Regions from separate parts of the Homo sapiens genome. Here all the other regions are linked to region 6. Evidence: fine-mapped expression QTL. A gene starts in region 6. Each other region holds a variant in brackets. All regions are shown on one strand. Distances are between the middles of the regions.

Region 1 (4,069 bases), 64 kb before region 6:
TCCTCCCCCCATGTCCTGCTGATTGGTCCATTTTACAGAGCGCTGATTGGTCCATTTTACAAAGTGCCAATTGGTCCATTTTACAAACCTCTAGCTAGCTACAGAGTGCTGGTTGGTGCATTTTTGCAGAGCACTGATTGGTGAATTTATAAACCTCTTGTAAGACAGAAAAGTTCCCCAAGTCCCCACTGGATCCAGGAGGTCCAGCTGTCTTCGCCTTTCAGTAGGACTTTGGGAGGTTGAGGTGGGCGCATCCCCTGAGGTCAGGAGTTCGAGACCAGCCTGGCCAACATAGTGAAACCCCGTCTCTACTAAAAATACAAAAATTAGCTGGTGTGGTGGGACGTGCCTGTTATCCCAACTACTCGGGAGGCTGAGGCAGGAGAATTGCTTGAACCCAGGAGGTGGAGGTTGCAGTGAGCCAAGATAGTGCCACTGCACTCCAGCCTGGGCAACAGAGCGATACCCCGTCTCACACCCACACAAAAATACTAAAATAAAAAAAAAAACCCACTGCCTCCGAGATTCACTTTAAATAATGTTGCAATGTTTTGTGTGAATGAATCCTTCCTCCACCTTGTTCCGATTTTATTCTGGGCACTATTTCTTCCATATACTTACAAACAAAAAGCAGGCTCATATTAGATTTTTTTTTTAACCCAGTTTGGTCTTGTGATCTACATCAATCCATCTTGTGACCAATATCAATGCAATAGCCCAAAAAGATATTTTACATGTTTATTTCATGCCTTAAAACAACCAGAAATATCATTGTCATGGCTAATTTCCAAATTATGAACTAAAAATTGACAAAAAACGAACATACATTGGACTTTCACTATGTGCCACACACATATTAATACACTTAACATGTATTATGTTAAGTGCTTAATTATCTCACAACTCTAAAAAGTGAGTACATTAGCACATCCATTCTACAGATGAGAAAAGGAAGGCTGGAAAAAGACATGATGAATCCAGGGGGAAGAGCAGGGATTTGAATTCAGATCTGCCCTGACGTCAAGTTCTTCTTTGGGGTTTCATGATTTTCCATTTTGTACTTTGCACATAGTCATGCAGCTGTAGAGTGAAGAAAATCTGTTGCTTTTCAAAGTTCCTGGCTAGTTCCTGAAGAAATGTTATTACTTTGAGCACACTGATATGGTTTGGCTGTGTCCCCACCCAAATCTCATCTTGAATTTTAGCTCCCATAATTCCCACTTGTTGTGGGAGGTGATTGAATAATGGGGGGGGGTGGGTCTTTCCTGTGCTGTTCTCGTGATAGTGAATAAGTCTCACGAGATCTGATGGTTTTATACAGGGGAGTTCCCATGCACATGCTCTCTTTTTTTGCTTGCCACCATGTAAGATCTGACTTTGCTCCTCCTCTACCTTCTCTCATGATTGTGAGGCCTCCCCAGCCATGTGGCACTGACTCCATTAAACCTCCTTCCTTTATAAATTACCCAGTCTCAGGTATGTCTTTATTAGCAGTGTGAGAACAGGCTAATACACACATTAAATAATTATGCTGTTTCCTGCTCATTTGGAGTGGTATACACATAAGGGCTTTCTCTCTTTTTTTT[T/C]CCCCCAAGGCTTTAAAAAGGGGTATGATTTCAACACTCACAGGATTGGAGAGGAAGTTTTATTCGAAGACGGTAAAACTCTTAAACTCACAGCCTTGGTTCTAAACCTATGGTCTGAATTCTTAGAGTCATTATTCACGTTGTCATTCTGAGTCTATGAATATTACTAAAGTTTTACCAGGCCCTGTGCTAGGCTTTGGGAGGCAGAGCGGTGAAAGAGATAGGTAAGGCCTCTGCTTTCCTCTTAATCAAGCCAGGGCCCCTGCTTGCTCGCCATCAAGAAGAACCATATCTACAATACATAAATCAGTGCAGTAGCTAAGTTTAGATGTTATGATTGCATTACCAAAGGCAATAAGACAGGAGGTGGCCAGCGCAGGCCTCCATGAACTAAACTGTATCGTGTGTGTGTGTGTGTGTGTGTGTGTGTGTGCGCGCGCGCGTGTGCGTGTGTGTGTGTACACGTTTCCTCTTAAGGGTACTGACAGAAAGATCTTTTTACCTGCGTACCTCTGTTAATAACTAGTTCTAAACTATGTTGGAGAATGGGTATGGATTCTACAACCAGATTAAATAGATATGGCCTATCTGACAAAGCAAACCTGAGATTCTATTTTCAAAACAGTACACCTCAATCATAAAATCTCTAATGCCAGCACCACCTGTAGCTCGCTGAGCCCCAGCTGAAGGAGAAGGGGATAAGTAAGGAGGTTTTTAAGACCGTGGCTGGTACAAAGCCGACTGCCCACAGATCAACCAGTGGCAAAGCCCCCAGGAAGCAACCGGCTGTGGAAGCTGCTTGCAGTAGTGCGCCCTCTCCTGGAAGGGTGAAGAAAACTCATAATTACAGGCCTGGTTACTGTGACACTCCATGATATCAGACCTTATCAGAAGTCCTCCAAACTTCTGATTTGCAAACTTTCCTTCCAGCATCTGATGCACGTAATTGCTCAGGACTTGAAAACATCTGCGCTTTTAGAGCGCAGCTATTGGTGCTTTGCAGGAGGCAAGTGAGTGAGGGCTATCTGGTTGGCCTTTTTGAAGACACCAACTTGTGCACTATCCATGCCAAATGTGTAACAATTATGCCAAAAGTCGTCCAGCTAGCACATCTCATACGTAGAGAAGGTCCTTAAGAATCCTCTATGATGGGAACATTTCATTCTGAGAAAAATTCTCTTCTTCTTGTTATTGGTGGTTCTGAATGTTAGATATTTTTTTTTCCATGGGGTCAAAAGGTAACTAAGTATATGATTGCCAGTGAAAAAACAGAGGACAGAAACCAGATATTGACACTTTTTTTCTGTGTTCGTTTGTGTGTGAACTGTTAGTATAAATGCCCTGCATTTATGTCCCTACATGAAGCATTAATGCAAGTCAAACCTTTCAGTGAAGAAGTCTCAGTGGTTAAACTTTATAACAATTAAGAAACCTGTTATTTTTTTTCTGAACAATGCTAGCATTTGGATTTTTTAAAAAAAAATAAGTAAATGTTTTATTGACAGCAACTAAATGGTGTTTGTAGCATTTTTATCAAATGACAGATACCATCCATTCACTAGACTTTTCTCACTGAATTGTCCTACATGCAGTACGTGTTTTTTAATGTTGTCTTTCTTCTGTGTTGTTTCTGTAAGTTTGCTATTAAAATACATTAAACTATTTTTAAAAAACTCTCCATAGGTCGTGGTCAGCAAGCATGTCTTCAGCAATCACATCAGTCTCAGGAGAAATTTTCATGGTCAGGAAGATAAATTTCATCCTAGATAGGGCAGTGTTGTAATAAAGGCATAGAATAGGATGGAAGCATGGTGATGACCAGGAATAATGAGAACTCTCCTCTACCTGCCTGTCCAACAGATATATTATTTAAGGATAATTAGTTCAATGCTTAAATCAATGAAATCTTATTTTAAAATAGAGTTACAAATAATCACTTTTAGTAACTCAGAAGGAAGCACTGGGATGAGGCTATGAAAGGCAGAATGTGTTAGTGAACAAAGTCATTGAGTCCGTTAGGTCACAACTGAGACTATGCTTTCAAAAGCATCCCCTAGCCTAATTACCCAATTGTTTTCTTTTTGATTTTTAGACAGAGTCTTGCTCTGTCACCCAGGCTGGAGTGGTGCGATCTGGGCTCACTGCCACCTCCGCCTCCCAAGTTCAAGCAATTCTCCTGCCTCAGCCTCCTGAGTAGCTGGGACTACAAGTGTGCACCACCACGCCTGGCTAATTTTTGTATTTGTAGTAGAGACAAGATTTCACCATGTTGGCCAGACTAGCCTCAAAGTCCTGACCTCAACAGATCCACCCACGTTGGCCTCTCAAAGTTCTGGGATTACAGGCATGAGCCACTGCACCCAGCCCTATATGTATTTTTTTAATAGTCCTTTTCCCCTAGAATTGTTCACAACCCTTATTCTATTCCTTTCCTTATGTTTCTGTCTTTCATCCTCCCCATCAGGAGGGCCAATTACAAAATA
Region 2 (4,069 bases), 170 kb after region 6:
CTCACTGCAACCCCTGCCTCCCGGGTTCAAGCGATTCTTCTCCCTCAGCCTCCCAAGTAACTGAGACTACAGGCACGCACCACCATGCCCGGCTAATTTTTGTATTTTTAGTAGAGACGGGGTTTCGTCATATTGGCCAGGCTGGTCTTGAACCTCGACCTTGTGATCCACCCATCTCGGCCTCCCAAAGTGCTAGGATTACAGGCTTGAGCCACCGCACCTGGCCTCCGTTTCATCTTCTTTCATTCTTCTTTTGGTAAGATTATGGGTAGCCAAGCTTTCATGTCCTTTTCTTTGAAAACGCCTTCATTTATGTACCTTGCCTGTAGACCTGTTAGCTGTCTGTAGGGGACTGGATTGGCGGGGCGGGTTGCACACCTAGGGGGCTGCCCTGGCTGTAGTGCTGTGTCCCCGAGTCTGTGGGGCTTCATGATGGGTTGTCTTTCTGCAAAATGTTGGATCCTCAAGCCCAGGCTCTCCTCTGCCTTTCTTCACTATGCAACTGCCATATCTGTCAGGGGTGACACACACTGACGGATGTTCTCCTGTGATCTGTTGACAGAATGCTGCTTGGTGTCTTTATTCGTCATTGTGACACTTTGTTCATGTTCCAACTGCTCGCCTTGGCATGACAGGGCAGAACAGAGGCGCTGTCTGAAGCAAGGTTTTAAGCCAAGGATTTATTAAATGACCCGTAGTCAGGTCCTCTAATTGAAATTAGCGAATGTGATAGTTGAGGGTTTGCTACACAGGTGTGAAAGGAGCTATTTTAGTTGAACCAGTCCCTGGTGGGGCTTTTCTTCTTGTGACAGTACAGGAAGTGATGCTAACACAACAAACTAAGGGCAGAACTGAAGGGATGTGTTTTTCTTCTGTTTTTTGAGAAAACATAAAATATTAACTTTATGTTCTAGACTCTAGCTCCAGGTGATACAAACATGAACATTGCAGAATCATGTTTAATCTATTCTCAATGTCAATTTTAAGACTTTATGAAAGCAAACCATACGTTTTCCATGGATGCCTATGTACATGTGCATGAACATAATCGTATCTTGTTGAAAGCAGCAGTTAAAGAAAAGCAGGCTCTTAAGATCTAGGTCCGCATGGTGTCTCGTCAGAAGTGGATGGACAAACGTGAGAGAACTCACCTTGCTAGATGACCCAAGCATCACCTTCCTCTACCATGCGATTTATCACTGCTACACTTACAGGAGTGGTTGTATTCCCAACATGAGAGAAGAAAGTTATCAGTAATGCACCTGCTATGTTAATGTTGCTGCATAGTGTTGAATTTATTGTTATCATAAGAAATTAAACATGGGCATTTGTAGGGTGGTCAGACCATTCCAAGTCAAGTTTCTATAGACTCAGTTCTTCTTGTTAGGATGAACATTGAAAATCTTTCTCATTTTGTCTTCTGGGTCTTTCTCTTTCCCCTATGTTTTTCAGATATTTTGGTATCTTGCCTTTTCTAAGGTTTACTTAGTTATATTAAATTAAGGATATATTTTTTCTTTTTTCTTCCTTCAGAAAGTAACATTCTTGACTTTCCCATTTGAAAAACAAATTAATATGAGATGTTGACTTAGTGAATGAGGCCAAATAGAACTGAAATATTTTGCCTTGAAGTAAGTGCACCTGTATATTTCCCTATGAATAGATTTGTAAATATATGTGGTATTTTATACACATGTATATACATTTATATACATACACAAGACGTGTACATGGCCATTCCCACACAGATTTTGACTATTTGAACTATTATTCATAGTTCATGTTATTTCAGTGCTTAGACACTGTCCCAAGGATTTTATAAATTTAGTTCTCACAACAACCTGCTGATGTAGGTGGTGATTACTATCTTCTTTTTACAGATGAGAAAAATAAGCCTATAGAGGTCAAGTACAGTGACAGAGCTCATGTGTGTGTATGAGGTAGAGGTGGAATTGAAACCCAGGCCATCTTGCTTTAGTCTGTGCAGGCTTAACCCTTCAGCTATTCTGCCTCTCACTGATGCCCAGGATGCAATGTTTGTTGTCCTTGTATTTACATAGTGACACCGGGACCAACCATACTGATTGTTTCAGATCTGTATTTAGATA[T/C]TATGTGTGGGGATTAAGCCTGTTCCAAGCTGTGATGCTATACAGGAAAGAAACCCTCATTACATGGGCGAGAATAATTCTTTAGCTCAGTTATTTTATTCACAAGTGATGATGAGACCAAAATTAAAGAAGCCAAACATGGAAATGCCCAGCCCCTGGGCATCACATGCATTTGGCATCCTTGGAATCCAGCTGGATAATTTGAAAAACCCTAGAGCCTTGGTTCTAGACTGAGTCCCAAATTACAGTCTGACTTGTTTTTCCCCACCTTTGAGGAATGCTTTTAGATGATGTAGAGGGATTTTCAAGGGGAGAAGAAAGTAAAAACAGAAAACAACTAGTGGAAGGGATCATGGAAGGCATTGGACTTTTCAGTTGTTTTTTTTTTTTTTTTTTAAGTATTCCAAGTTGTTCAGAAAAGGGATGGGGTAGAAGAGAATAACCACCCCTTATGTTCCTTTAAAATATCTTGAAATAATAGCTATAAAAGAGATAGGCCCATATGTCTAGTGGGGATCTCTATTTTATATACCCAGTGTCTCAGTGCAAATACATTATTTGATCATAATAAAGATAAATTTGTTCTCAAAAGATAACTTTGCATTGTGATATTTATATTGGTAGATCCAATCATGTATGGGTGTTTTGTTATGACATACTTATATTTTATAAACCCCAATGTTGTCTATTAAAAGTCCTAAAGTTATATTATTATATAAATGCATTTTTCATATGTTAAAATATTATTTACTTGACAGATGGCATCATCAGAAGGTGATTTTAAACAGCAAAGTTCTGATGCTTTTAACATAGAATTGCATTTATGCAGTTTCATTTTTCCACCGATATTTCAGGCACACACCTATTGTATCAAGGGAGGCAAGTTTGTGGGGCATTGATGGATTCTTTGCTTTATTAAATTTTTACTTGGATGTTTGATCTAAAAAGTAATCTAAATCTACCATATATCAACGAGTATCTTCATAAAGCTATGATTTTAACATCTGTGACTTTTTTCCGATTTTTTGAGTATAGGGAAATAAAGAATTTACTTTTCAGAGTTGACAAGGACTGAAATATGATACACAAATTAAAGCATCAATCAACCTCTCCCTCAATAAAGTTAAAAAATACAACTGTCCACTCGCTTGGTAATATCCCATATTTAACATATATAGAATTTTTAGCTTTTAGAGATCCTAGAATATTGAGAAAATGTGAAGTAATTTCACATAGAACTTAAAAACAACAGTAGCAGTAATAGAGCCAACCCTTCCAACACACATGTACTTGTGCACACACACACACACACACACACACACACACACACACACACATGCATGAACACGAAGAAGCAGAGGACATTTGGGAAATTAAAAGTTGCTCTGTTGAATGTTTTGTGAAAGCAGTTTAGTAAAAACCAAAGGCAAGGCCTTGAGGACTGCTGTTTTCCATGATTTCTCTGTGGACCGAAAAACATTCAGATTCATTTTGCTTTGGTACAAATGACAAATGCAACACTGTTTTGAGATTCGACTCATTAAATAATGCTGGTCAAATGTCTTTTTGATGCTTTCGATATTTATGTGTTAACTGTGTCTAAAAGATTTACTTTAAGTTCTGTCACCAGTTTACTCACAACGAAATGCACCTGCATTTCATTAAGCTCTTTCATTGGCTATGACATCCACCAGAAGTCACAACTGGATGTGCAGAGCAGACATCGCTGCCCATTTGCTAGGTGTGTGTGCAGTTGATGCTCAAAAATTAAAAGTATTTGTGTAAAGCTGGAAAAAAGAAATTTCAGTTACAATAACCAGAAGAAGAGGGGTTTTAGACATCTTAAAAGTGTGTATATATAAGTGCACACACAGAACCATATACACATATATGCAAAATATATAGGTATATTCAATGCTTAAAATATTTGGCATCTTATGGTTTTAACATATATAAGATAG
Region 3 (4,069 bases), 110 kb after region 6:
GATCTGAAAGACTGATTTCAGAATTTCCAACCTATTGCATTTGTTAATAATTTGAAAAACTCAGTTGGTTTACCATAATAATGTGTTAATTGACCTCTGTCCTCTTTGTAGGTATATGATCGAGATTTAACCACATCTGATTTCATGGGTTCTGCATTTGTCATTCTCAGTGATCTTGAGCTTAACAGGTACCGTATTTTTACATTTTAATTGTTATTGATGAGTTTTAGAGGGAACTTACGATAATGTTAAATGGTGCTTGTTGAGGTCAAATGACAAAAATAACATATCTGAACAAATGAAAGAGAGCTTTAAAGTGTTATAACTGTCAGTGTATTTTTAAGGATTTTTGCTTTCCAGGTGCCAAATATATTAGTCAGATGTTAAGTATTTTATAATGCATTCTAAAGTGTGTATTGGATTTCATACTTTGATTTGTTAATATTCAGTTTCATTAACATAACTTAAAATTAAAACAAGTGTTTACATTTTATTTGAGTGGTAGGGGAGGGGGATCAGTTAACCAACTGTTGAATTAAACAATGCCAAACAGTTTCTCTACTCTGAATATAACTGTTTTATTTTCACTAAATTTTGTGCTTTCTTAACATCATGTCTAATCCTTATTCAGAGGTAGGAGACTTTTACCATAAGCTCCTGATGCGTGTAGGTCAATACAGTCCTGTCAATAAGTGGTAGCATTATTTGTTGCTTTTTGCTTGTAGAACAACTGAACATATTTTAAAACTGGAAGATCCAAACAGTTTAGAAGATGACATGGGAGTGATCGTGTTAAATTTGAACCTAGTGGTAAAACAGGGTGATTTCAAGAGACACGTAAGTGGGACCTTCTATTCTTTTGAAACCTCTCATTTTGTCGTTTTGAAATGGCTCATTGCAATTGTCCCTTGATAGCTAGCAGATGACTGATGTTTTTGCAATTATTTTAGGGGGGGTGCAACATTTTATGGAGTCTTAAAATATCTGTTTTTTAATACAATGCTCTTCTTTGAGGAACCGGAAAGGAAATTTGTTAAGGAATTATTTCTTTTGTGTTATTAAGATGATCAGGCATACATTTGCAGCATTTTGGTTTCTTCTTTCTTCTTTTACTTTTAGCTACCAAGTTTTCCATTGGGAGTTCTTTTGGGAAGATACAAATTTTAATGTTCTCTAGTCTAGTACATGCAAATTTCTAGTTGATACAGTACCTATCAAAGATGTCTGTAACATCAGTGAAGCATTAGACTTTGTCACAATATGATTGGGACTCTTCTTTTGAGCAAAAATGTGGATACAAATCATAATCTTATTTTATTTGGGATTATATTTTATAATTCTAAGGCTATATTAGAACAAAAGCATCTTTGATGATGACTTATTTGAAAAGTATTTTTAAAGCCAATTGAAGTACCTGCTTTTTAAGATGTGTTATAATTTAGCATGTTTATAATCCAATATAAAAATATAAAGCCTATTTATAATTAGGTCTCCAGTAATGCTTCTTGAATTGAGGCAGTGGGGTGGGTGAGGAGAATATTTTTCTTTTGACATCACTTATGCTTCTAGTTGTAGCTTTTTATGATGAAAACCGTGATTGATTTACTAGTAAACTCAGAGAAGATAGCTTAAAGCAGTAGGAAAACTGTAGTGTGACTTTTCAGTTACCTTTTCAAAGATTCAACTAAATATCTGCTATTTTTAACTTGAGTTCCTTTTATTACTTCTTTTTAAAAAGTGGCCCTGTTGACACTTGTGACCTCAATAAAAGAGATATTTTAATGTTAAAATGTCTTAAATTAATGTTGAAAATAAAAGTATTTTTTCTCATCCCACCTAAAGAAGGAGGGATTTTCTTTAGCTTCTTCTTGATCTTGACAGCATTGCTGCTGCATCCGTGACTCTGGATTCAGTGTCAGTGATACAGTAGGTGACCGGTGACTTGAGCTGGGGGCTAGGTTATAGCATGCAATGTAAATAGTTATTTGTCA[C/T]GTGGTTGACAACTTGCCAGCTGATATCGTCAAAAAATTTCTTATATATTCAAGTGGGGCTTGTAAAGGTAGTTGATTTCTCCATGAAAATAGCTGCATATTCAAATGACTGCCTTTGTGAAGTTTTCTATAGCATATTAGATTATGTTTAGCAGTAATATTGGCACTTAAAAGATATTTAATATTGTCAAAATTTAGAGTTTTAACATAATGCCATTTTAGTTTCAATTTATTTCAAATTGCAGAACAGTTAATACTAGACTCAGCTTGGAGCTGTTTTTGTAAAAGATCTCAAAGAGACTATGTTTTCAGGGCTCAAGAATAGCCATATTTCCTCTTAGTGTAGGCCTGGTTTCCTCTGACTCCCCACCTCCCATGTTGAAGACTTTGTCAGAATGTCTGTCCGCTCACTCATGTGCTTCCTTATTTTCTTTTGTCTTTGTCTGGCAGAAGCCTAGTGTACACTATATTGATTATATATACACACACAAATATATTTTTATCCCCATATATACACACACACACACATATATATTTATATATACACAAATATATATTTGTCTCCATATATACGCATATTTATCTCCATATATACACATATATTTATCTCCATATATATACACACATACATATATATCTCTATATATGCACATATATATTTATATATACACACACATATATATCTCCATATATATACACACACATACATATATATTTATCTCCATATCCATATTTATTCAAGTTGGGTTTGTAAAGGTAGTTGATTTCTCCATGAAAATAGCTGCATATTCAAATAGCTATCTTTGTGAATTTTTATATCCATATTTATGTATATGGAGATATATATGTATGTGTGTGTATATATATATGGATACATGTATATATACACATATATATGGATCCATATACATATATACACATATACACATATATGAATACCTATATATATATACATATGGAGATAAACATGTATATATATAACATATATATATATAATGGAAATATAGACAACTGCCTACTCTTATCTCTTCTGATTGGTAGTTTTTTTCCATTTATATATTTGATCAAAGAAAATTAATTGAGGAATAATTTATTCTGGGCCATGTGTGGTTATTCAGCTAACAGTGCATATTGGGAGCCTTGGGGTAAAATAGATTATCAGAATCTTTGTTCTTTTCATTGAGTTTGAGTTAATATTTAAAGAGATTTTTATATTGGGATTTTAAGTGGGAATAACTAGCACTTGGGACTGGAAATCAGTAGATTATTTGGGTGAGATAATTTGTTTATAAATTTCCATTTTAATTTAAACTCTGATGGAGAGATTTCAGTTTAAATTCTCAGTTTTTTACCCCTTTTTCTTCCAGTCATCTTTGAGGTAGCCTTTGTTGCTTTAGAACCAAGCTGACAAAAATCTCAGTATGTACAAAATGTTTATGAATTTACTCTTGTGTCCAGGGACTTAAATGTATATGAGAATGGTGCAGGCAGAAGGGAAGACACTGGCTGCAAGGCTGACAAACATACTCTGTGTTCTTTTTTTGTGGCAAAAAACAGGAAAAAAATAGTAGCTAAAATTAGGAGCTCTGTTCTCAGACTGCCTGGGTCTGAATCCTAGATCCACCAGTGGTCTGGTTAACTCAAAGAATTATTTAACCTCTCTAAGCTATAATTTCCTCATATGTGAAACAAGGATAAAAAGAGTGTCTGTTTTATAGGGTTGTGAAGATTGAAATTATCAAATATGGTGCTTGGAATTGGGTAGAGACACTCAATATATGGTAGTTGGTAGCATTGTAGGAAGTGAATAGTAATAGTCATTTTCCATTAATTTATTTACATGCTTTATCTTGTGTAATTGTTAAAAAATATCAAATGCGTTCCTATGTGTCAAAAGGCCTAAATAGCCCTGTGTACCTAAAAGATGGTAATTAATTTTGGTGGTTGGTTTGGGTGAAAATATCTGTCACTATTTCAGGAAAATACAAAAAAAAAAAACAAAACCCTGATATTAATATCCAGGTTATAGTACCTATAACTCTGTCATAGGCTGAATGTTGAACTCCCAATATCACTGG
Region 4 (4,069 bases), 38 kb after region 6:
TTCAGTAGAGATGAGGTTTTCACTGTGATAGCCAGGATGGTCTCAATCTCCTGACCTTGTGATGAACCCGCCTTGGCCTCCCAAAGTGCTGAGATTACAGGTATGAGCCACCACGCCCGGCCCAAATTCATTCTTTCTTTCTTTTTTTTTTTTTTGAGACAGAGTTTCGCTCTTGTCACCCAAGCTGGAGTGCATTGGCACAATCTCGGCCACTGCAACCTCCGCCTCCTGGGTTCCAGTGATTCTCCTGCCTCAGCCTCCTGAGTAGTTGGGATTACAGGCGCCTACCACCATACCTGGCTAATTTTTTTTTTTTTTTGTATTTTTAGTAGAGACGGGGTTTCACCACGTTGGCCAGGTTTAGTCTTGAACTCCCGACCTCAGGTGATCCACCTGCCTCGGCCTCCCAAAGTGCTGGGACTACAGGCATGAGCCACCGCGCCTGGCCACTTTCCTTTTCTTCTTTTTCAATCTTTATTTTGTTGTCCTTCTCGTTTTCTTGGGAAAGTGTCCCCTTCTTGTTTTCTCCCTTGGCTGGCTTCCTTTGTATAGACTATGTGATTAACACCTCATTAAATACCGTCAGAACTTCTATTTCTGTATATTCATAGTATATGTTCCACACTGCCTTGCTATCCATGAATTCTTACCAGTAGATCATAAACTTCTTATGGACAGGTTTTGTGCCACTCTTATAAGAACTAGTAGATACTCAGGTAACATTTCTACATTGACTTTTTTTTTTTTTTTTGAGGAGATAAGAGTAGAGTCAGCTCTGAGATGACTACTTTTTAAGTGATTCTTATTTTTAATCTTTTTGTATATTATTGGTAGTTTTTAGGACCTAAGGAAAGCATGTTTGCCAGATTTCCACTTCTGAATCAGGGATGGATTGATGGAATACTTTAATAACATTATTTTTAAACTATTAGCATAAGGGTTTTTTAATTGCTCCAACAATGTTAGTGTCTTCTTCACTTAGCATTATACTATTTTAATAATATTGTTTAAATGATTAGTATAAGGACTTTTTAAATTGCTCCAACAATGTTCATTTGTCTTTCACACTTAGCACTTCGTGATATTTATAAAGGGCCCATTGAAGTATCTCGTGTTGACACACTGAGGTTGGTTAGTTTGGGTTTCAAATTCTGTCAGTTTTCAAGCTCTGTTCAAGTTCACTTTTAAGCATGAATCATGAGTTACACAAATCATATAGATTTATTCTTAAAATGTTGATTATTTTAAGTCATCTTTTTCAGTAAGTGCCTTATAAAGATTTGGGCAGAGTTTCAAATTCTTCTAATATTCAGGCTTTAGGTGTAAGAATAATTGATAGAATTTAGGGGTAAGAATAATTGATAGAATAATTGATGTTTTAGACAGATAATAGAGTAGATTTGTCTTTACAACTCCAGATATCTGGAATCATATGTTTTCAATGATTGCCTTATGAAGATTATTGAAAACTGATATCTCAGTGTTAATTTTCAGTGTGTCTTGTATAAGCTCTCTCGTGGACAGAGCAGCTTTTATAAGGGTTAAATTTATCAGGCTCCCATATATGTGATTAGCCATTGCTGTAGACAGTTTTCTAGTATTTCATGTTAGGAAATACTCAACAAATACATTTTAATATAACCAAGGTTCTGAAGAAGACCTTACCTCTGAATATTTTCCACAGAGCCTATTATATTCCCGAGTTCACAGAAAGTTGTTTTATTACTTCAAGGACTCTCTGGGCTCAACTCTGTAGCTAAAGAATGTTATGTTATTCTCTGGGCTTGGTAATTGTGTTCCAACTCTGATATTTAGCCGTGATACTGTTGTTTCAGAGTTTGAAGTAAGGGAAGATACCTCTAAAAAAAAGGTTCAACTCTAAAGCGTTTCACTTATCCATCTATATTGTAACATTTTTTTTCCAGTTGTCCCTTTTCTCCAA[G/A]CAGAATAAAATAACAGAAGCAGGGCACAGTGGTGAGGGTATTCAGGCACCATGCTTGTGGTTCCAGCTAGTGGACGTTATGTTCCTGTTGGGGACTTTTGAAATGTATATGATGGTTTTTCTGGTCACACTGACAGGGACATTGCTGACACATAGGAGATGGGGACTATGATAGCTGCCATCTTACAGTGTACAGAACAGACCCATATGTCAAAGAATGTTTCCACCCCAAGTGCCAGAAGTACCCCCTGTTGAGCAACACTGAGATAGAGAGGCTTCAATTTCGGGCACTGTGAGCTTGAACAGTTTGCATTTGCTTCATCTGTAAAGTTGGAGGTAAAATTACCTATTGTATAAGATCATTTTAAGGATTTCTGATGATGTATGTAAAGCAGTGAACACAGGACCAGATGCTTAGTAGGAACTAGTAGAGGAATTGTTTGACGCCATTTTTAACCTTTAGTGGTTTCCCAGCCCACTCACAGTAAAAGCTGATGTCCACAGACTGGCCTACATGGACCTGTCCAATGCGATCTCCTGCTCCCCTTTGAGGTCATCTCCTGGTGGTCCCCCTCTCTGGCTCTCTTCCAACCACACTGGCCTCCTTGCTCTTTCTCCATCTCCCCAGGTGGGCTGCCTACCCCCTATCCCCCTCTCCTGGCCTTCTGCACTTGCTCTTTCTGCTATGTGAGAGGCTCTTTGGCTACATGTATCCCCCTGGTGTTCTCCCACACTTTCTTCCACATTCTGCTTACCTCATCTAAGGGGTGTTTTCCTGATGCATGATAGAAAAATAGATGCTTGGCTGTCCACAGCCACCCTTTGTTTCCACTCGGTTGTTTCTCTTCCCTTTACCATCACAGACAGACAGAAATTATTGTCTGTCTCTTCCAAGTAGTACATAACTTTCATGTAAGCAAGTACTCTGCCTTGTTCACTGATATATCCCTAGTGGCTGGAATATCCCATCGTTACTTAGGTGTCAATATGTGTATCAGATGACTGGATTAGTATTTTAAAACAGCAATGGCAAAGAAGTTGTAATTGACTGGTAACACTTGGTTGTATTACCAGTCAATCACAACAGTGTTACCAGTCAGTTACAACAGTACTTCATATGCTATTTGTGTGTATGTATGTGAGACGAGAGTGTGTGTGCATAAAAAAGTTATCCTTTCTACTAGTTACATAGATTTAAATCCAGATGATGGAATTAATAATTTACAGGAAACTCCCCATCTAAACAATTTTGATAAGCTTTGCAAGATATACCACACATTAGGTTGTCCAAAAATTGGATTTCTCTACTCACTGCTCTTCCAATTATATTATTCTCTCATCTCTTTTAATTGAAGGAAGCATGATACTTGTATTCTTACATGAGACTACCTTAAGGGCATAATGATGTGATTATATTTGGGTATATGTTTTGAAATTGGTTGCAAATCTCTAGAGGTTATCAGTAAAACTACTTGTAGCATGTTAGAATTAGTGAGTTTTCCTGTCTGCTTGGAGGAGGTGTAATTGCTCTTTGGATAGACAATAGGTGTTTGCTGTTTCTGTTAATATGGGTAGGAGCTGGGGACATGCTTTGAATGATTATGTTATGAAAGAAACTACTGGCTTGATGTTTTAGAAGCAAGAGAAAGATAAATGGTATAATATACTTATTTGAAAGATAGGTATTTGAATTTAAATTTTCTTTCTTGCTCTTTGGTAGATGTGATGATTTCTTTAAAATATTTTGCTTTGTTTCTGAAAAATTTGTCTGGATTTTATGGCTTAAAAATATGCACCATTTGTGAAACATATTCTTTTTCACACCAGAAATGGCTTTGGAACATATGCATAAAGTTTCTGTTGTTCTAAATTAGTGTTTCTTTTGGGCTAACCTTTCAATTACATTTACCATCCTAAAATAACTTCTTTACCTAAGTTGGACAAGATTTTGTACTGGAAATTAATACCTTTGCCTCCTACTATCCTTATTCCGGTGATGTTCTAAAGATAGTTCAGGTGTTCTGTTTCTGCAGGTAATTATTAGACAAGGAAACCTTTAAATGTGGTGATAATGTTAGGCAGGACCTTTGAAGTTTAATGGTTGTGTTCTAATGTAGGAACTGTTTA
Region 5 (4,069 bases), 56 kb before region 6:
AGAGCTAAACCAACAAAGACTGGGATCCAAAAACACAGGCAAGTTCAAACCACAGGATGAACTGAGGTTAAGTCATGGGCACTGGTACTATTGCCACTGGACACTAAAGCTGATAACACTGGTGTCTTTAGGCTACTGCTGGTGACAACTTTAAGCTGTGAATCTGTCAACCGCTCCCCAAGATTCAAAAGCTTGGCTGTGCATGTCTTACCAGCCAAACCTTCATCACCTTCCCACTCCTCCACACCATGACTTTCAAGAGTACCTGCTCTCCTGCTTTGGGAGACACCCAAGTCACAGTGTCCCACCAGGACACACAATGCAGGAATTCCTTCAAAAAGTAAGGCTCTTATGATCATGAGTTGCTAGAATAAAACATGCATACCCACCACACCATACCCCACCATTGTCTAGACATAAACAAAACATAACACACAATAAAAAGCTCCTACCAAAGATAAACAAGCTTACCCTTATTCTACTGAACATATTCCACTTCCAAAAGGAAGCCACTATACTCTCTCCACTTTCTTCAAGTTTCAACCCTAAGACCTCTGACTAACATCTATTTCTTTTTTCAGTTTTGTGGCAATTCTATTTCAAACCACAAAATAATTACAAAGTTAGATGATACCAATGCATATGCAATCTTTGTGGAAAGCCACACAAATAGGGAAGTTAGTTAAAATATTTACATGCCACAAAAAGGAAGGAAATTCTGAGTAATGGCTTTAGTCATCTTCTTTGCACAGGTCCCATGCCTGTGCATGATACTGATGGCTTAATGACTCTATGGCTCACTCCATGGCTACTTTGCCTCCTGCCAGCACTTCAGCAGTTGGAGTGCTTAATCAGTGGGGTGACCCAAAATGTCATACATGAGTATTTCAGCCTTTGGTGGTCCTGTTTTTTGTTTCTTTGTTTTGTTTTGAGATGGAGTCTCGCTCTGTTGTGCCCAGGCGGGAGTACAGTGGTTCGAGCTCAGCTCACTGCATCCTCCACCTCCCAGGTTCAAGCGATTCTCCTGCCTCAGCCTCCCAAGTAGCTGGGATTACAGACGCACACCACCATGTCTGGCTAATTTTTTGAATTTTTAGTAGAGACGGGGTTTCACCATATTGGCCAGGCTGGTCTCAAACTCCCGACCTAGGTGATCTGCTCGCCTCAGACTCCCAAAGTGCTGGGATTACAGGCCTGAGCCACTGCACCCGGCCAGTCCTGTATGTGTATAGTTGCAATATCCTTTCAACTGTCTTTTACTAACTTTATGTTTAAAAAATATTTCAGTTATATATTGGACAAAAGCAGAAATGAGATTACCTGATGATAAATCAACCCTCTTGTACAATTACACAATGATGCTCTTCATTACATTGCAAGATTTTAATTCTCTTCAGCCAGTCTATTTTTAATTTTTTCACGGGGGCTTATGTTATATAAGATTATAAAAAGATGGCTATTTCCCTACCAGGCAATTCAAGTCCCTACCAAATCCTATACAAGTGGCTCCAAACATCTTATCAAAATAAATCTTTTTAAACAAATGACAGTTTAAAAACAAATCAAAATACCTCAGTAGCTTTTAACCAAACACTAACTTTATTTGTGTAAATAATGAGTAATATTTGCCTCTTTCTGATTAAATCATTTCCTATTCAAACTGGAGCATGAACTATTTCACACTTGAAATTCTTAACCCATATGCAACTCTCAAGGGCTGAATTGTGTCCCCTGCCAACTCCTATGTTGAAGCCCCAACAGCCAGTCTCTCAGAATGTGACTGTATTTGGAGACAGGTCCTCCAACGTGGTAATTAAATTAAAATGAGGCCTTTGGGGTAGGTCCTACTTCAATCTGACTGATGCCCTTAAAAGAAATTTGGACACACAAAAAGGCACCAGGATGCAGGCATGCAGAGAAGACAGACCATGTGAGAACACAGCAAGAAGGCGGCCATCTCTAAGCCAGAGAAAGCCCTATTAGATAGTTAAATTTGAAAGTTTATTTACTGATGAGCTTGATTAGTGTTAGAAGCCAACTGCCCCCAAAGCAGACTTTAAGATGGGGGGTGTGGCCGGGCGTAGTGGCTCACGCCTGTAATCCCAGCACTTTGGGAGGCCAAGGCGGGCGGATCACGATGTCAGGAGATCGAGACCATCCTGGCTAACATGGTGAAACCCCGTCTCTACTAAAAATACAAAAAAATTAGTCGGGCGCGGTGGCAGGCGCCTGTAGTCCCAGCTACTCTGGAGGCTGAGGTAGGAGAATGGCGTGAACCCGGGAGGCGGAAATTGCAGTGAGCCAAGATCGCACCACTGCAGTCCAGCCTGGGTGACAGAGCAAGACTCTGTCT[T/TAA]AAAAAAAAAAAAAAAAAAAAAGGATGGGGAGTGTTGTACAGGTAAACTACAATAAAGAAATCCCAAGGGAAACCTGTGAAAGAATGGGGAAGCCAAGCAGGAGCAAGATTTCAGGTCAAGTTTTTCAGGGAGTTGCTTCAGTTTCTCCCACAGGAGTGTCTGTTGAACTCACCACTGTGCTGTCCCTTGGTAAGGGTTACAGGATTATAAAACTTCCAAACCCATCGTTGGTTTAGGAGAAAGTAAATTCTCAGACTCTGCCATGAACAGTCCTCTACAATAAGAAGAGCATACGCTGGCTCTTAAGACCAAAAGTTCCTCAAAGTTCTGGGGCCCTAAAAATAGAATAAGGGGAATCCATGGGGATCTGGTTGGAGTACCAGTATTAAACACCGTGGTAAATGTTGGATTGTTCTGTTACTTCAACTTACCTGTTAGGTTCTGTGCCATATGCTAGAAAGCCACCATAACTTCTGGAGACTATGTAGCTTTGAGAACTTCAGCATCACCAAGTTGTCATTAAGCTCAGACACTCCTGTCATTTCTACCATGCCCCCTCCTATTTCAGGAATTCCTTCAGAAAAATGACCAGGCATTCCCCAGGAAAGCCACCTAGATAAAGTTAACTGAGCTCTGGAAAGTCATCTGTTTTCTTGCTCCCATTGGGCCCTTTCACTTTGTTTTCAAGCCTTCTTCACCCTTTCTCCCCTTCCTTTGATCTCTTTCCCTCATCATATTTTTCACCTATACTCTGATGTTCTGCATTTCTCTGGGATCTTTGTTGAATTTCTTTCAGCAGTTTTTCTGGCATCTTTATCATAATCCAGTTTATAATCAAGAACAATATCATGGACTTTTCCCCAGTGACTCAGGAGGATACCTCCTTTTTCCCGCCCTTTCAGGTTGGACTGAATTAGGATTTATTTCCATGACTCTATCACAGTCTTGGATGGAAACATTTAGCAATCTGAAGAAGCCACTTGCTCTCTTGGCATACAGAGTGTAATAGATAATCTTTCATGATACGGTTGGTGGGAGTAGGCATGCAACAAATGCGAGTCATGTGTTGATGTAATTTATTTGTGCCTTTAGGGCTTGTGCAGGCCTCATATCTATACACCACTTCCTCATGACGTTTTGCTACATGGATTAGACATGCAGTTCATAATGGGTCCTATGATTGGAATATATTCCCCAAAGTTTATGTTTTAGAAACATGATCCCAGTGCAGAAGTGTTGGAAGGGGGGCCGTTTAACAGGTAATTAGATCATGAGGGCTCTGATCCCCTGAATGGATTAACGCTGGTATCCAGGAAGTGGGATTTTTATGAAAGGACATGTTTGAAGTTCTTTCTTTCTCTCTCTCTCTCTCTCTTTACCTCTGCTATGGTTTAGTTCTATGTCCCCATCCAAATCTCATCTCTAATTGTAATCCTCACATGTCAGAATAGGAACCTGTAATCGCCGGGTGACGAGGGAGGGAGGTGATTAGATAATCGGGGCAGTTTCCCCCATGCTGTTCTCGTGATAGTGAGTGAGTTCTCAGGAGATCTGGTGGTTTTATAAGTGTTTGACAGTTTCTCCTTCACACATTCTCTCTTGCCTGCCACCGTGTAAAACGTGCCTACTCCCTTTTCTGCCATAATTGCAAGTTTCCTGAGGCCTCCCCAGTCATGAAGAACTGTGAGTCAATTAAACCTCTTTCCTCTATAATT
Region 6 (4,069 bases):
ATTATTCCCTGGAAGGGACATTTCCTGGGTGGAACATAGAAAAGGAGACAGGTAATATGTTTGAACAATTAAAAACAAAAAACCCAGGAAGCTGGGCAGATGAGTGTATTGTGGTGGGAAGGGCAAGTTGTGACCTTAGATTTCTGTATCTTTAGTTGTTTCACTTTCTATACCATTTAATGATTGAAAAATGCGGTTGGACTGCCGGAACCACAGAACAGGAACTCCACTGGGGCAGGAGTTAAAGGCAAAAAAGCTTTTGTGTGGGTTCACTTACTATTTTAATTCATTTGTATTCTTAGTCAGCTTTAAAGGTATGATTGCTTCGTCTGCCTACTGCTCTTTCTCTTCTTCCTTTCATGCTGTTTTACCCTTACCTCTCTCTGTTCTCTGCTAGGGGATGTAACCTTCGGCACGGTGGGAAAAGCCAATTTTGCCATAGGCCTCAGCTTGCTCTGACTCGGCTACTAACTTGACTCATAGCTTCAGGCAGGTTATTTCATGGTTCTGATGCTCATTTTCCTCATCTTGAATCAGAGATTTTATTAACTGTCTCCTGGTTTGTGAAAATTCAATATGATCACGTGTTACATGCCAATCACAGAAACTGGTGCGAAGTTGTGTTCCTCAGTGGTAGCTATTGTTGTAAGTCGGAATTGCATGACAGTGGCAGCTGTTTTCTATCACGTCCTCATGTTTTCTAAATTTTTATGCCCCTTCCTCCCATTTCCTACCTTAGTATTGTTAATAGCTAACTTTTATTAAGTGGTTACCATGGCCCAGGACACTGTAATGAGGATTTTATGTGAATTACCTAATTAATTTCTCAGAAAGTATGAGATAGCTATTATTTTAAGCTATTTAAGCTATTTTAAGCTATTTAAACAACCAGTTTGTTGAAGTTAAAATTTAGAGAGGTTAAGTGAACTCGTCCATTTACACAATTAGTTGCCCAGGCAGAATTTGATTTGAGGTCTGACTCCAAAGCCGGAGCTCTTAATCACCAGTGACACCAACTAAACGCTTCATTTCAGAGCTCGCCTATTCCCAGAGGTCCCATTCCCGTTTTAAGGTTATTTTCTGTAACTCTCTTGTATCTAATTTAAAAATGCTATTTCCCAGAGATGAGTCCCTGATCTCCCAGAAGGCATGGATCATACATTTCTTTTCCTAATCCACCCAAATTCCTAGAGCGCACAGACTTAGGCTCGTTCATAGACGGGAAAAGAAACTGACCAGGCAGTGAAACCGAGCAAACAAAGTGCAATAAGACAATTACAGCAGGAAAGCGGCGTAAAAAAAAGTAGAAAAAGAAAGTAAGGGAAAGGGGAAATAAATAGCAAATATTCGCTGAGTGCCAACAATCGCACGGGAGGGTCTTTAGGGTTCTCTGCCGAGTACTCGGGACGGCTTGCTGAGCAGTACGCCGGCCTTATCTCATAGATGAGGCACCAAGGCTCAGGAAACAGTTCTGTGGATCTGGGCGGGCATCTTCCACCCACAGTCGCGCACACGTGGCATAGGTTAATAGGCTGTCTGGCTCGGGTACCTCTTCCCAGGGTCAGGGCGTTACAAAGGGAGGCTGCTGTCTTCCCATGAATCTATTAGGGACCTACAGGAGCGAAGAGAACCCTTCTGAGTATCAGCGAAGACAGCTTATTAAGACTTTACGAGTTTGCAAGCCATCCTCGTCCTATTTCCTCACTTCGGACTTTTTGGACACACCTTCCTTTTCCTGTGAGCCAACCCAAACGAATGAGTTACAAGTAATCGCCTTCTCTACGCCCAGCCAGTGCCCAGCACCAAGCATAGCGCCTCCTTGCAACACCCGGCCGAGCTCCCGGCGGCAGCGCGGGCGCTTGGGTCGGAGGCTGCTCAAAGGTGACGCGCGGCCGCCTCCTCCCCTTTAGGCGGGGCTCGCAAGGGCGGTGGGGGGGCCCGAGGAAGTCCGGGGGCCCTCGGTGATGCCCCCGCCCCCGCCGCGTCAGGGTTGCTCCCTGCGCTTCCGAGTGGCGACTGCAGCGGGTCCGGTGCAGGTGAGGGGCGCGCGCCTGCCCAGCTTTGCAGCCCCCGAACGCGGCCTCGCACAGGTGAGGGCGGTGCCGGGTTCACCTGGCAGCGCGCGTGGGCCGGGCAGCACGGTCGCCGCCTGGGGGTGGGCGTCTTCTCTCAACCGAAGCTGGGAGTTGGGGAGCTGGAGGGTCCAGGATGAGAATTCAGTGGCGCTACTACCCCGGAGCTGCTTGTGGTTCAGAGATCAGAAAGGTGTCCTGAGGACTGGAGGCAGAAATCCAGGCGTGGCGTACTGGAAGGCGCACTAGGGGAGGGCAGCCTGGCCCAGAATTTCTTTGCATTTTAAAGGCCACACATTCAGTCTCCCCGGGGCGCTACGGAGGTAGTCACCGCCACATCCAGGACTCCTTCCACAGAGGTCAGTTCCTCAGCTGGGTGGGCTTTAATACGCTCTCTTCGTAGAGACCCGGAGGTTCAACTTTAATTCTTTGCGCTGACATTTGCTCAACGACACCGGAGCAGAAATCCTTGGGATAATTGCGTAGGTAACAAACAGTGTCTCAATCCCACTGAAGATAAGTAAGTTAAAAATAAAGACAGTGATGTTGGTGGTGAACTTGAGTGGCGATTAGTTTCCGCAATTAGTTCCCTCCTGCACTGTCCATTTGTTAAGCAAATGTGCTGACGGCTTTTTTTAAATGATTGGGTTGCCATAAAAGAGGTTTTCTCTAGTCTGAATGAACTTCTGTGCGATGCTGACTGAGGGTTTCAGCCTCCTCTAGATGCTTACAAGAGCTTGGTCTGGAAGGTACAAGGGTGCGAACCCTTAAGGTACCAAGCAGCTTCTCAGTGAACCGTGAGACGTTAGAACACTTGCTTCAGGACGCACAGAATTCAGACACCACTTATTGAAGGATTTGTATGGATTATAATTTACATTAGCATTCATTTTTTGCTTGAGTCAGTAGCATTTCAATTCAACAAATATTTATTGTACACCTGTTAACGGGCAGACCTCTGAGAGCCGGGCTGGTGTGCTGTTGGGTAGCACAGGTGTTGATATTAATACAAAGGGGAATCTTAAGGCACTTATTCCTCACAGGTGGGTGTTTAGAACGAGACCAATGGTGCTGCGCTTTGCCTCAGCAGCACCTGTGTAATCGCTGGTTATAAGTATTTAAATGCAGGGAGAATGTAAATCTTTGAAGAGTCTCTGTCATTAGCCTGATCAGTCATTCCAAAGCAATAAAAATTGTCAAAACCATGCTTAAAATAAGATTATTAAGAATTAGCTCTGTGCCAAGCACCATGCTAGGCACTTTGTCTTGTCTATGAAATCTACAAAGTAGATACTATTCCCCTGTGCAGATAAGGAACTGAGGCAGAGAGGAGTCCAGTAATTTGTACAAGGTCAGTGGTGAATTTAGAAATTGCATGTGGCTATTTCTGAGTGCAGAACTCGTACTTTTTCACTATTCCATGCTGTCTCTAAGATGGAGAGTGTAAATCCGGCAGATTTAATATAAGAATTCAAATTTATATTCATAGATCCTATCTCCTGGGGATTAATGGAGTTAAAGTAGTCCTCAGGAATGAAGTGAGCACTGTTTTCATTGCACTTGTGTGGTCAAGCTGTGACCTATCTGTGACTAGTAGATGTAGCTTTAAAAGATAAAATTTATTATGTGTCTTAACATATTTTGAAAGGCCTTTCAAAATATGTTAAAAGATAAAATTTATTATGTCTCTTAACATATTTTGAAAGGCCTGATATATCCAAACAGGGCCAATTAATAAAATTGCATATATATTCTCTCTGTGTTATACATGGAAGGAACAGCTAATTTCCTATTATTGGTGTGCTTTACTATGGTCTCCTCCTGCAGAGGTGAGTTTCTCAGCTGAGTGGGCTTTGAAATCAATTTCAGCTTGATTTCTTACAGCTGCAAGATGATTAGCGGTCTCTTGTCACCTGGAAAGGACTTTGTGTTTGTGTAAACCTGTGCTCACACACGAATATATATTTTTCCTTAAACCTATTTCCAGAAGTACTACT
Region 7 (4,069 bases), 28 kb after region 6:
TTCAACCTTATCTCCCATATATTTTGCGTGTGGTAACAGTGGTGTATGTTCCCTACAATGCCCTGGTAGCATTACAAAGAAAAATTGTTTGGGCTTTTTCAGAACTATCACATTTTAAAAATATTTGTTGTCATTTTCTTTGTTGTTTTTTTTTTTTTTTTTTTTTTTTTTTTTTTTTTTGAGACGGAGTCTTGCTCTGTCACCCAGGCTGGAGTGCAGCGGCATGATCTCGGCCCAATGCAGTCTCTGCCTCCTAGGTTCGAGCGATTCTCCTGCCTCAGCTTCCTGAGTAGCTGGGATTACAGGTGTGTGCCACCATGCCCAGCTAATTTTTGTATTTTTAGTAGAGACGGGGTTTTACCATGTTGGCCAGGCTGGTCTTGAACTCTTAACCTTGTGATCTGCCCTCCTCGGCCTCCCAAAGTGTCAGGATTACAGGCGTGAGCCACCGTGCCTGGCCCATTTTCTTTTTTAAGATGGAATCATGCTCTGCCGCCCAGGCTGGGGTGCAGTGGTGCGATCTTCTCAGGGCTCACTGCAACCTCCATCTCCTGAGTTCAAGCAATTCTCTTGTGTCAGCCTCCTGAGTACAGCACCTGCCACCATGTCATTTTTTTTTTTTTTTTTTTTTAGTAGAGATGAGGTTTTACCATGTAGGCCAGGCTGGTCTCGAACCCCTGACCTCAAGTAACCTGCCTGTCTCGTCCTCCCAAAGTGCTGGGATTACAGGTGTGAGCCACTGTGCCTGGCCACATATTGAACATTTATGTGCTCAAATCCCAGGAGGGTTTCTAATTCCTTGGTTACTTAATAATGTCACAACTAAATGAATGCTTCAGTTATCCAGATTTCTCTAAGCCCAGGTTATGGTAAACAGATTTATTTCTATATTGTGAGTTTGAATTTCTTTTCTAATTATGAGTGACTCCTCTCTCAAAGGACATGCAAATCTTTTTATCCTGCCTCTGCCCCATCACCTGGGTCCACAAAAAAGCATCTGTGTCTACTTCTGAAAATGCAAATTATTTGAATGTGCCAGAGTAAGTAAAAAGGAAGTGGTGCATGCATGGTGTAGTTTGTAAATGTAAGAGTGACTTGAGACAGATGAGATCCTTTATTGAAATTAATAGTTAATGAATTTTCCCAAGAGAAACACCATTTAGTAGAGGTGACAATGGTAGTTACCGAAAACCCTATTTAAATCACGCTTGCCTTAAAAAACTAAAAACCAAAAAACCAAAAAAATCTTGTCTATTTCATCTTGTCTGGTTTGCATTATGTTCATTACCTGATTCTTCTTTCTAAAAGGAGAGATACAGTTCTGAAAATAGTTATTGCCTAAAGGGAGAAAACAAATTCTTTTCCTGGTATTGCAGTTTTGTTATTTGTTTTCCAACAGGTTAAAGGATTTAATTATTCAGATGCTCTAGAACTGTTCTCTGCATATTCTTTTGATCATACGCCCTATCAAGCAGGTACTTTTTGAGCAGACACACCCAATATATAAGTTTACATATTTACTTATAAATTATGTACATGTACTATGGTGCTGATAATATATATACATTATTCAGCATACACTAAAATAGAGATTAAAAGAACACATTAAGTCAGTGTGAATGGAAGTTCCAATATTTTCTTCCTACACTCTGTGGCTATGCTGGACTCTCCCTGGGCCATGCTCACTCAGTTCACTCTGGGGACCCCCTTCACCCCACCCAGCCTAGTCCAGGTCATGGGATTGCAGGACCTGAATAAAAACACACCATTAGTACTCATACTCTGCCTAGGGAGGCTAAGGGAAGAAAAGTTTGCTAAAGGTCCTGAATAAAGCTCATCGAACTCCAAATTCTTCACCTTTAAAGAGAACATGCTACAGTGCACAGCCTGGCACCTGGGGCAGAGTGGTGATCAGGAAGGGGAAATTGATGTTCTCCTCCTATTTCTGCTGCTGTTCTGTTACTGCAGCTGTTAACTGCTAGTTCATAAATCTTTTATCTAAAAATTCACAATTCAGAAACTTTTGCAAATGGAAAGGATTTTGTTTGTAAGAATCCTTACCAGGGTTTGGTAGCAAACTCTGACTTGGACTCTTGTGTAACTATTTC[T/C]GTTCTATGTAGTAGTTATATATCCCATTAAGTTTGAATTGTGATATGTTTGATGATGAAATACTGTCTCCAAACCATTTAGGGTATTGTGTAATATATGATACACTCTCTAAATTCTTAAATTTCTGAACTCCAAAAACAAACCTGGCCCAAGGTTGGTTTAACCTCTGTGATGATTATTTCTACTTTGAAGCTTGTTGCCCTTTTGTTCAGGTTATTGCTGTATGATCATTTGGTGAAGGATACTGCTTTTTGATGGACATGATCGCTTGTAAAGGCTTCCCCAGGTCTCTACTGTAGGGAAGAGTGCGCCTGTCCTGATTCAGTCATTTGTAAACTATTGTTATTGTTTGGACAGGAATAGCAGATGGCTTAGTCTCACCCTTGTGCACTGAATGCCCTCCACATCACCATGTAATTGTCCTTTCCAGATCATACATTGGGTAAGGAACCTTCTGATCTCTGCCCTGTTCTTAATCTCCTTCAACCACTTTCTCTTCCCCTTTGGCTGTTCACCAGTGAGGTCATTTGCTTTATCTCTGGAATATATGAAAAGGCTCCACCTGTACCTCTCATGTTGTCTTCTCACTTCTGTTTTCTCTACCCAAGGAACCTTGAGTGCCTTTCCTGGGGATTCTGGCCACGGAAACTTCTCCTGTTCCTCAGGGGCAATAAGGGTATGCGAAAATTCCTCCCCGACTCAGGATCCAGTGGGCTTGCCATGGTGCATTCAGAGGCTCTGCCATCTCTTTAGCATTCCTTTCCAGGCTGCAGTCTACCCCCTGAGTCCAGCCCACTCAACTTTCTTGTTCAGCTTTGGCATCATCTCATGATTGGAGGGTGCAGCCTTCATTGATAGGCTGGCATTCTTTCCAGAGTGACAGTGCCAACTCTCTTCTTCTTTCTGCCCTCTCGTCTTCTCTCATGGGCCACAGAGTGGTTGGGAATACAGGTTGTGGGCAGACAGTAAATGGGGCTTCCAACACCATATTAAGGACTTTGAACTTGTACAAAGTTTATCTGCAGGAGCCATTAAAGGTGATTCCATCTCTACCTTGAAAAGACCGTTGCTCTGGTGGTGTAAATGAGAGATTGTAGAGGAGAGAGGTGAGAGAAGGGGAGTAGAGGTTCAGAGTACACTCTCAGATATCCTTTATTTCACTTCAGTTTCAAAATGTTAATTTGACTGTGTAAACCAAAAATAAAATTCTAAGGCCCTCCAACCATCTGAATGAACCCCTCTTCTCAGCCAACGGCATTCCAACGTTAACCTGAAAAAATGAGTTCAGGCCATGATGGGAGGGGACAGCCAGGCATGCCTCATTATACCCTCCTCCCTTTTGGAATTACTGAAAGAACAGTAATAGAACAGTGATAGTTCTTTAGGTCTGGTAAGAAACATTTACAACCTGTTCTCTCTGAAGCCTGCTACCTGGAAGCTTCATCAGCACGATGAAACCTTGGTGTCCACAACCTTTTATCATGACCGAGACCCTCCTTTCTATTGATGATTCTTTTACCAATTGCCAGTCAGAAAACTTTTAAATCTACCTGTGACCTGGAAGCTCCCCTGCCTCCTCACCACCCACCCCTGCTTCAAGTTGTCCCACCTTTCTGGACCAAACCAATGTGTATCTTTCATGTATTGATTGATGTGTCTCATGTCTCCCTAAAATGTATAAAACCAAGTTGTACCCCCAACCCCCTTGGGCACTTGTCATCAGGACCTTCTGAGGCTGTGTCATAGGTGCATCTTTAACCTTGGCAAAATAAACTTTCTAAATTGATTGAGACCTGTCTGAGACACTTTTTGGGTTCACACTACCACCTGATTGGTAAAACAGTTGGAGTGGATAGCATGTGGATTCTGTGTTAGGCAGCTGTGAGTCTTAGTGACAACTCTACCATCAAAAACCAACCGGTGGCCAGGCAGGCTGTAATGTATAAAGTAGGGGCTTTTA

Alleles and levels. Positions count from the first base shown, and alleles are read on the strand shown. Sizes are in standard deviations (SD) of each study's normalised expression. Not every link is listed here.
As copies of T replace TAA in region 5, the expression in whole blood of the gene that starts at base 1,987 in region 6 goes down (moderate effect, 0.67 SD a copy in TwinsUK).

What was found. PIP is the estimated chance that this variant, and not a neighbour inherited with it, causes the effect. A credible set is the group of variants that fine-mapping cannot tell apart.
Region 1: its variant is the best candidate, but not a certain one, in a credible set for the expression of MCTP2 in whole blood (TOPMed, PIP 0.59).
Region 2: its variant is the best candidate, but not a certain one, in a credible set for the expression of MCTP2 in whole blood (INTERVAL, PIP 0.67).
Region 3: its variant is the best candidate, but not a certain one, in a credible set for the expression of MCTP2 in whole blood (TOPMed, PIP 0.70).
Region 4: its variant is the best candidate, but not a certain one, in a credible set for the expression of MCTP2 in blood mononuclear cells (TOPMed, PIP 0.86).
Region 5: its variant is the best candidate, but not a certain one, in a credible set for the expression of MCTP2 in whole blood (TwinsUK, PIP 0.57).
Region 7: its variant is the best candidate, but not a certain one, in a credible set for the expression of MCTP2 in whole blood (INTERVAL, PIP 0.83).

What each region holds. Positions count from the first base shown.
Region 1 is chr15:94,166,039-94,170,107 of GRCh38, forward strand. It overlaps the pseudogene H3P40. Among named protein-coding and RNA genes, the nearest start is that of LINC01581, 60 kb to the left of the region's middle. The variant T/C (reference allele first, on the strand shown) is at 1,587.
Region 2 is chr15:94,404,373-94,408,441 of GRCh38, forward strand. The region is part of intron 17 of MCTP2 (multiple C2 and transmembrane domain containing 2); the gene reads left to right. Among named protein-coding and RNA genes, the nearest start is that of MCTP2, 170 kb to the left of the region's middle. The variant T/C (reference allele first, on the strand shown) is at 2,109.
Region 3 is chr15:94,340,088-94,344,156 of GRCh38, forward strand. It overlaps MCTP2 (multiple C2 and transmembrane domain containing 2), which reads left to right. Exons shown (of 23, transcript NM_001385001.1): 6 at 112-188; 7 at 726-837. Among named protein-coding and RNA genes, the nearest start is that of MCTP2, 110 kb to the left of the region's middle. The variant C/T (reference allele first, on the strand shown) is at 1,992.
Region 4 is chr15:94,268,044-94,272,112 of GRCh38, forward strand. All of the region lies in intron 1 of MCTP2 (multiple C2 and transmembrane domain containing 2), which reads left to right. Among named protein-coding and RNA genes, the nearest start is that of MCTP2, 39 kb to the left of the region's middle. The variant G/A (reference allele first, on the strand shown) is at 1,943.
Region 5 is chr15:94,173,939-94,178,007 of GRCh38, forward strand. No RefSeq gene overlaps it. Among named protein-coding and RNA genes, the nearest start is that of MCTP2, 56 kb to the right of the region's middle. The variant T/TAA (reference allele first, on the strand shown) is at 2,354.
Region 6 is chr15:94,229,575-94,233,643 of GRCh38, forward strand. It overlaps MCTP2 (multiple C2 and transmembrane domain containing 2), which reads left to right and starts at 1,987. Exons shown (of 23, transcript NM_001385001.1): 1 at 1,987-2,090. RefSeq lists an enhancer at 242-381 and a silencer at 1,917-2,046.
Region 7 is chr15:94,257,425-94,261,493 of GRCh38, forward strand. The region is part of intron 1 of MCTP2 (multiple C2 and transmembrane domain containing 2); the gene reads left to right. Among named protein-coding and RNA genes, the nearest start is that of MCTP2, 28 kb to the left of the region's middle. The variant T/C (reference allele first, on the strand shown) is at 2,109.